Regions from separate parts of the Homo sapiens genome. Here regions 2 and 3 are each linked to region 1. The links come from fine-mapping of genetic effects on gene expression. A gene starts in region 1. Each other region holds a variant in brackets. All regions are shown on one strand. Distances are from middle to middle. Region 1 holds the start of TCF3 (transcription factor 3). Region 2 overlaps TCF3 (transcription factor 3). Region 3 overlaps TCF3 (transcription factor 3).

Evidence for each region. PIP is the estimated chance that this variant, and not a neighbour inherited with it, causes the effect.
Region 2: its variant is the best candidate, but not a certain one, in a credible set for the expression of TCF3 in left ventricle (GTEx, PIP 0.84).
Region 3: its variant is the best candidate, but not a certain one, in a credible set for the expression of TCF3 in whole blood (TOPMed, PIP 0.77).

Annotation. Positions count from the first base shown.
Region 1 is chr19:1,651,193-1,654,025 of GRCh38, reverse strand. It overlaps TCF3 (transcription factor 3), which reads left to right and starts at 1,411. Exons shown (of 19, transcript NM_003200.5): 1 at 1,411-1,726. RefSeq lists enhancers at 673-782, 903-952 and silencers at 1,243-1,292, 1,303-1,432, 1,963-2,042, 2,133-2,362, 2,170-2,392 and 1 more.
Region 2 is chr19:1,622,797-1,625,296 of GRCh38, reverse strand. It overlaps TCF3 (transcription factor 3), which reads left to right. Exons shown (of 19, transcript NM_003200.5): 8 at 1,297-1,346. Among named protein-coding and RNA genes, the nearest start is that of UQCR11, 19 kb to the right of the region's middle. The variant G/A (reference allele first, on the strand shown) is at 1,033.
Region 3 is chr19:1,630,861-1,633,360 of GRCh38, reverse strand. It overlaps TCF3 (transcription factor 3), which reads left to right. Exons shown (of 19, transcript NM_003200.5): 4 at 956-1,029; 5 at 1,245-1,323. Among named protein-coding and RNA genes, the nearest start is that of TCF3, 21 kb to the left of the region's middle. The variant TC/C (reference allele first, on the strand shown) is at 1,162.

The DNA.
Region 1 (2,833 bases):
CCTCTGCCTCCTGGGTTTAAGCGATTCTCCTGCCTCAGCTTCCCGAGTAGCTGAGATTATAGGTGTATGCCACCACGCCCAGCTAATTTTTGTATTTTTATTTTATTTTACTTATTTATTTATTTATTTTGAGACGGAGTTTCGTCCTTGTTGCCCAGGCTGGAGTACAATGGCGTGCTCTCGGCTCATTGCAACCTCCGCCTTTCGGGTGAAAGCGATTCTGCTGCCTCAGCCTCCCGAGTAGCTAGGACTACAGGTGCCCGCCACCATGCCCGGCTAATTTTTGTATTTTTAGTAGAGATGGGGTTTCACCGTGTTGGCCAGAGAGGTCTCGAACTCCTGACTTCAGGTGATCTGCCCGCCTTGGCCTCCCAAAGTGCTGGGAATACAAGCGTGGGCCACCGCGTCCGGTCAACTTTTTAAATTATTATTTTAAATTATTTTAAATATTTTTAGAGACGGGTGTGGGTGGGGGGGGTTTCACTATGTTGTTCAGGCTGTTCTCGAACTCCTGGCCTCAAGCGATCTTCCCGCCTCGGCCTCCTTCAAAGCGCTGGGATCACAGGCAGGAGCCACGGCGCCCGATCCTAGGCGGGGTCACTTTTTACTAAAATGTAGACACGGACTACTAAGAATCAGGAAGCCAGATCTGGCCTGAGTTCTGTCCAAAGTCAGGTCCAAATTCACAGATGCCGAGACGGAGACTCAAGTCGGCAAAGGCACCGCTGAGACTCCCCGCGGGGCTCTCTGACCCAGAGCCGGAGCCAGAGTCGGTTTTCCCGCCGGGAAAATGGGTCTGACGTAGCCCCCTCGGGGCCGTGATACCCGCTCGCACCACTCAGCACGCGGGGCCGGCCCGAGGAACGCAAATATAACCAAGCAGAAGGCTCCGCGCGGGCGGCCACGCCAACCTGAGAACAAAACTCCAGGACCCACCCCGGCCGCCTCTCGCGGCCTCTCGCTCGCAGAGTCCCGCCTCTGCTGAGGGGCGGGGCCGAGAAGAAAGGAGGCGGGGCCTCACCACGAATGGCTAGGATCCCCGCCCATCAGACTTTCGCGGCTTCCGATTGACCAGACTGCTCTGCCTTAGCTTTCAATCTCACGGGCCTTACTCGCTTGCGTCATGGACTAAGCGCACAGCTCGTGTGTGCTTCCGCGGACGGGGATAGTCCGTGATTTCTCCCCGCGCCGTGGCCCGACCGCCTCCTCTGCGCGTCCCCGCTCCCAGGCTCTGGACCTCACGGGATTCGGGGTCCTCACGAGGGTGCTCGAGAGGCCGAGCTAGGGCGTTCGGGCCCGAGCCGCCCGGAGGTGGCGGAGGGATCCGCGTGGGCCGCCGGGCGGGGCACTCGGGGGCGGGGCAGGGGCGGGGCCTGCACGGGGCGGGGCGGGGCGGCGCGGGCGGGGGGCGGAACATGTCTCCCGCCGCAGGAAGATGAGGCAGCGGCGGCGGCTGCGGGCGTAGCGGGCCGGAGCCGACGCGGCGGCGGGCACCGCGGGCACCGCGCACGCCGCTGCCCCAGGGGCGCCCCGGCCGGCCGCGCGCACGGGCCCCGCGGGACGGGCCACGCGGGGGTGGGAGGGGCCCGGGCCACGCGCGCCGCCGCCGCCGCCCACGCGCGACCCTCGGGGGCCCGGCCGCGACGCACCTTTGTCCGGGGGGGGGCCCCCCCGCTTCATGCCGCCGCCCCCCCCCACGCGCCGCGTGCCCGGCCGCGCCCAGCAGGTGAGCCCGGCGGGGGGCGGGGGGCGCGCCCGGTACCCCCGTGCTTTGTGCCCAGGGAACCCCGGCCCGCCCCGCGCGCGCTTGTTGGGGGGGGGCGCGGAGGAAGTTGGGGCGGGGGCGGTGTCGGGGGGCGCCCCGCGGCCCGGGAGTCATTGTTCTCCAACTTCGCGCGGCGCCGGGGGGGCGGCGACGTGGAGGAGCCCGGAGCTCGCCAGGCCCGCGTCGCCCCCGTCGGGCCGGGCACTTCGGGAAACTTTAAGCAGCCCCGGGCGGGGGCGCGGGGGGCGCCGGACGGGCTGTGCAACTTAGGCGCGAGGACCGTCCCCCCCAGCCCGGGCGCACGGGGACCCCGGGGCGCCCCCTTTCTCGGGTAGAGGGGGGCCCGGCCCGGGCGCCGGAGTTTGGGGTGGGGAGCGCGCGGGAGGGACGTCCTTTTGTCTGCGCGGGGAAGGTGCCGCGCGCTGCAGGCGCTGGTCGGGGCCGGGCGGGCCGGGGGGGGGCGCGCGGGTAACATCTGCTCCGCGTTAATGCGGGGCGAGGCGGCGGCCGCGCTGCGAGCTTCAAAGGCTCCCGGGCCGCACCGCCTGCACCGGCTGCGGGGGGAGGGGGGTCCGGCTTCCCGGGCCGCCTCCCCCCGGGAAAAAGGCGTTCCAGCGCGCCCCCCGCCTTCGGCGCCGTGCAAAGTGGCTTCAAACATTCTCCAAGTCTCTCAAAGTCCTTGGGACGCCCCAGAAGTCTTCCAGCTCCCGTAGAATGCCCGTTTTAGCTCGCCACCCCCCCAACTAAGTCTGTCTTAAAATCGGTTTCAGCTACCCCACAAAAAAGTGCGGTTTCGTAGTCCTCAAAAAAAGTCAGTTTCACACGCCCTCCAAAAAAGAAAAAAACTGAGCGGGGGAGGGGCTGCGCTGGGGCGCCCGCTTCACACCCGGCCTCCAGTTGGCAGACAAAGAGGGGATTTCTCTGCTTCTGAAGTTGGGTCTCCCTCGACCTCGGAGGCTCCTCCCCACCCCCAGCCTCGGAGGTGTCTCCCGGGCTGCCCCCGTCCCCACCTGGGGACCCCTGGGGAAAGTCGAGACTGGAGGGGCCTGGAGTGCATTTCTTTGGAAT
Region 2 (2,500 bases), 29 kb after region 1:
GTCAGATGCCTCATGGGGCTGCATCGTGGCTCCTCTGCACTGAGCCCTGCTGCACACGCGGGCATCCCCCGCGAGGCACGTCACAGCCTCGGGCTCAGGAGCACTGGACGGCGCCTTGAACTACCCGGGGCCCATTCCAGGCAGCACAGTCGCCAGGCATGGCGGCACTCACCTGGGGTCCCAGCTTCTCTGGAGGCCGAGACAGGAGGATCACTTGAGGCCAAAAGTTGCAAACCATTCTGGGCAACATAGGGAGATCCCATCTTTGCGAAAAATTTTAAAAATTAGCTAAGTATGGTGGCACACACCTGTGGTCCCAGCTACTCAGGAGGCTGAGGCAGGAGGATGGTTTGACCCTGGGAGTTCGAGGCTGCAATGAGCTGCGATCGCACCATTGTACTCCAGCCTGAGCAACAGCGCAAGACCCTGCCTGAAAAAAATAAGCGTGAAATCACCCACAAAAAGCACAAAAACGTAAAAGATCGTGGCTCTGAATAGACCAAGGACAGGAGCCCCATGATGCGGGAGGAGGCCTCTGTTCCGCCTTGGCTGGGCACATGCGCCTGGGCCACTCGAACTTTTCCCACTGTGCGCACGTCCGTGAGTGATCAGGAAGGCGCCTGAGTGCTGGTTTCCGGGTTACGGATTTTATCCTGTAGGCGAGTTTGCAAACAGCAGCCCCTAGTGGTGAAGCCTGACTGCGTGGGATAGTCGGGGCCATCTTGGAAGGAGGGTGGGGCCAAGGGGCTTCTCAGCAGAGCCTTGGCTTAGAATCCACCAACTCCTCGTTTTCCAAACTGCGCGTCGCGGGAGAAAACCATCGTGGTTCTTCGACATCTTTGGAGCCGTATAAATAGACCCGGGGCTTTTTGTTGTTGTTGCTGCTGCTGCTGTTGTGTTTTGAGACGGAGTCTTTCTCTGTCCCCAGGCTGGAGTGCAGTGACACGATCTCGGCTCACTGCAGCCTCTGCCTCCCGGGTTCAAGTGATTCTCCTGCCTCGGCCTCCCGAGTAGCTGGAATTATAGGCACCC[G/A]CCACCACGCCCGGCTACTTTTTGTATTTTCAGTAGAGACGGGGTTTCACTGTGTTGGCCAGGATGGTCTTGATCTCTTGACCTCGTGATCTGCCTGCCTTGGCCTCCCAAAGTCCTGGTATTACAGGCATGAGGCACCGCACCCAGCCGACCCGAGGTTTTTAATATATGAAACGGGAATTGTGAGGGTCTCTCCTCCAGGGTGTAGGGCAGGGGTTGTTCTCATGGCCGGTGGCCGGTTCTCACCCCTTTTGCTTCTAACAGACACGCAGCCCAAGAAGGTCCGGAAGGTCCCGCCGGGTCTTCCATCCTCGGTGAGTCGCACGAGGGAGAAGGGACCCCACAGCTCGTCAGTGGCAGTGCCAGGCCCTGTGTCCTGGCGAAGCTTGGGAACACACATGGCGGGGTGGGCCCTGAGTGGACAGGCCCCCTGTGATTTCTGAGCCAAGATCTGAGCTCTGACCCGAGGCCGCCTCCAAGGGAAGGCGGGGAAGTCCTTCCCTAGGTCCAGCCTCTGTCTGTCTTGTTTTGAGAGAAAGGCAGTCCTGGTGGCTGAGGCCCCTTTAGAAAGGGCACAATTGTGCTGGGTGTGGTGGCTCATGCCTGTCATCCCAGCGCTTTGGGAGGCCGAGGTGGGTGGATCACCTGAGGTCAGGAGTTCTAGATCAGCCTAGTCAACATGGTGAAACCCCATCTCTACTAAAAATACAAAAATCAGCCGGGCGTGGTGGTGCGTGCCTGTAATCCCAGCTACTTGGGAGGCTGAGGCAGAAGAATCGTTTGAACCCAGGAGGCGGAGGTTGCAGTGAGCCAAGATCATGCCGCTGCCCTCCAGCCTGAGCAACAGAGTGAGACTCTGTCTCAAAAAAAAAAAAAAAAAAAGCGGGGGGTGCCGCAATTGGGGCTCCCTGTTACATCCTCACAGCTTCAGGCTGCCCCGCATCCCTGCCTCCCTACCAGGCCTCGCAGATGGTCCAGGCTGCTGTGCCACACTCCTGCGGTCTCATCTCGCTGGAGGGAGAGGGAATTTGCCGATTCCCTGGCTCAGTAGCCACCAACCACCCTCTGCCCAGTGCCTGTGCTGGCCCCAAGAGCCCTGGGCATACATCTCCTCACCCCTCCAGCCGACCAGCTCCCCACAGGCCTGGGTTCGGGGTTAGAGTCAGGTTGACTTCCCAGGCCAAAGGCGTGGTCAGGCTCTGCTCCCAACAGTATCACTCACTCCCCTCCTTCCCCAGGGTGCACTTTCTCTGCCCTGAAACCGCCCCCCAGTTTATTACAACATCAGGCCCACCCAGCATACTTCCCGCTCCAGCACAGCAGCAGACGTTACCAACAGGCCCCAGCCCCACAGTCCAGGCAGTGCCAACCAGTCAGAGCTGGCGCTACTCACAGACCCCTCTTCCTGTTACTTTAGTGAAGGACGAATGTTGCTCTGGGACCAAGGGAAGCTCAGCACTGGAAGATT
Region 3 (2,500 bases), 20 kb after region 1:
GGGAGTTGGACATGGACACCCCCAGCCCTGCAAAAGTAGGGCCTGTTTGTAAATCATTTATAGAGAGGGAAACCAAGGCAGGGCAGCAACTCCGTGGCCAAGCTGAGGAGGCCCAGGGCCCGCTCCTGCTTCTCCACGGGTGTGCTCTGTGGCCCCCGATGGAAGGGGGAAGGATCCAAGCAGGCCCTCCCTGCCCAGGGCAGAAGATTCTGGAGTCCTGGGCGTTGCCTGTGAGTGTTCTGAGAGATAAGGGCCCCGCCCGCCCCGCCCCGGGACCAAGGTCCTCGTCCCGTCCCTTGCTGCGCCGGGAACTCCTGCCCCACGCAGGCTTCTGGTCTCCACACTGGGCTTGTTCCTGGGTGATGAGATTCGGCTCCACCCTCACGGGCTGCCAGCCTCCTGCCCGATGGGTGAGCCTCTGCTGCTGCTTCAGCAAAGGGCGGCCCCACTTCCCACACTGGCAGGTGGGGACAGGGAGACCCTGGGCCTCCCCAGAGCTCATGGGTTAGCTTCCACACCCTCATGCTGTCATGAGCCTTTCTCACAGGGTCAGAAGAGTCTGCATCTGACACAGAGACCCCAGTCCACATAGTCAGGGCTGGGCCAGAGGGAGGGACTTGGGGCTGATGGGGAGGAGGCTCGGCGTGAGAGTGAGGTCTTTGCCCAAGGAGGGTATGAAAGCTGGGGCTTTAGTGGGTGGGTAGGAGTTGGCCAGCAGAGAGCCGACGGAAGAGTTAATTTAAGTTTATGGACCTGTAAGTGCTCCGAGTCCCAGGGTGTCTGGGTGTTAGCTGCTGACTGGTGTCCTCATGAGTCGGGCTGGGTGAGGCTGGGTTAGGAAGGGTTCCACAAGCCCCCCGGGTCCACTGAGGTTTGCCCCTGAGATGATGAACCGAAGCTTTTAGAGCTGGGCAGGCGTGAGGGTGACCCATAACTCTCTCTGTCCTGCCTGCAGGTCTTGAGGACCGGCCCAGCTCAGGCTCCTGGGGCAGCGGCGACCAGAGCAGCTCCTCCTTTGACCCCAGCCGGGTAGGAGTCCCCGTGAGGCCTGAGACCCTGAGTTTCCTGTCCCCAGAGTTGGGGGCGAGGGGTGTGGGGAAACTGAGGCTGAGAGAAGGGGCCAGCCTTCCAGGGGTTTGGACTGGGGGACATGGGTTTGAG[TC/C]CTGCCTCTCCAGCTGTAATGCGGGGTGGAGGGGGGGCCTGTGAAGCCCCAGCACCTCTCATCCCCACCCCATCTCCCCTAGACCTTCAGCGAGGGCACCCACTTCACTGAGTCGCACAGCAGCCTCTCTTCATCCACATTCCTGGGACCGGGACTCGGAGGTGAGTGCCTGGCCTGGTGCGGTCCCTCTGCTGTGCACAGATGTGCAGACGTGGGCCTTGGCATGGTCAGTGCACGCACAGCGCCAGGCAAGTCCCCAGCGTTCACCCAGAGGGTGTGGACAGCCGAAGCCTCTGCCCGTCCTGGGAGCAGCTGCGGGGAGGTGCAGGGGACGTGGCCCGGACTCCCTGGCACGGCACTCTGCAACTAGGCTTCCCCGCCTGAGCGTAGAGGCAGGGAGGCCGTTCCAGACCCCACTTCCTCCCTGGGATTTCTGCAGGGCTCCTCCTGCTTCCCGGGGAGGGGTCAGCCGGGCTGGCCTGTGCCCGCTGGGAAGGAGGCGTAGGAGTTCTGGAGACTCGGGAGGGCGGCCAGAGTGTGCGGTGGTCAGAGCCCATGCCCTTCCGCAGACCGCCCGCCCGCCCTCTTTCCCTGGGGGGCCCTCCTGTTAACCGAGAGAATCGTGACTCAGGTTGGGCTCGGTGGCTCACGCCTGTAATACCAGCACTTTGGGAGAGCGAGGTGGGTGGATCACCTGAGGTCAGGAGTTTGAGACCAGCCTGGCCAACATGGTGAAACCCCGCTTCTACCAAAAACACAAAAATTAGCCGGTCATGGTGTTGGATGCTTATAGTGCCAACTACTCAGGAGGCTGAGGCAGGAGAATTGCTTGAACCCAGGAGGTGGAGGCTGCAGTGAGCCGAGATCACGCCATTGCCCTCCAGCCTGGGTGATGGAGCGAGATTCCATCTTAAAAAAAAAAAAAGAATGAAGACTCAGGCCTGGTGTCTGGTCCCACCCCACCACGGAACCTGGGCAAGCGCCATCCTCTTCTGAGCCTCAGTTTCCCCACTGTGGGAAAGGGACCCTCCCAGAACCTTCTTGGAGGGAGGCGGTGAGGACTGACCCAGCTCTGCAGGCCCTGCCCAATGCCAGGTGGGGGTTGGTGCCTGGTCTTGGGTATATTCCAGCCCCGCTGCAGGCTCACCCGTGCTGCAGGGGAACGAACCGACGCTTGGGAAGGGCACCCTGGCCGGGGGTCTGCGGCTGGGTGGGGCTGACTGGGACGCCCTCCTCCAGGCACCTGGGGCTGCGACTGGGACAGTGTCCCGTGTGCGGTCCCTCCTGCGGGTGACACAGGAAATGCCCCGAGCTTCACATGCTCCGCCTCCTGCGGGA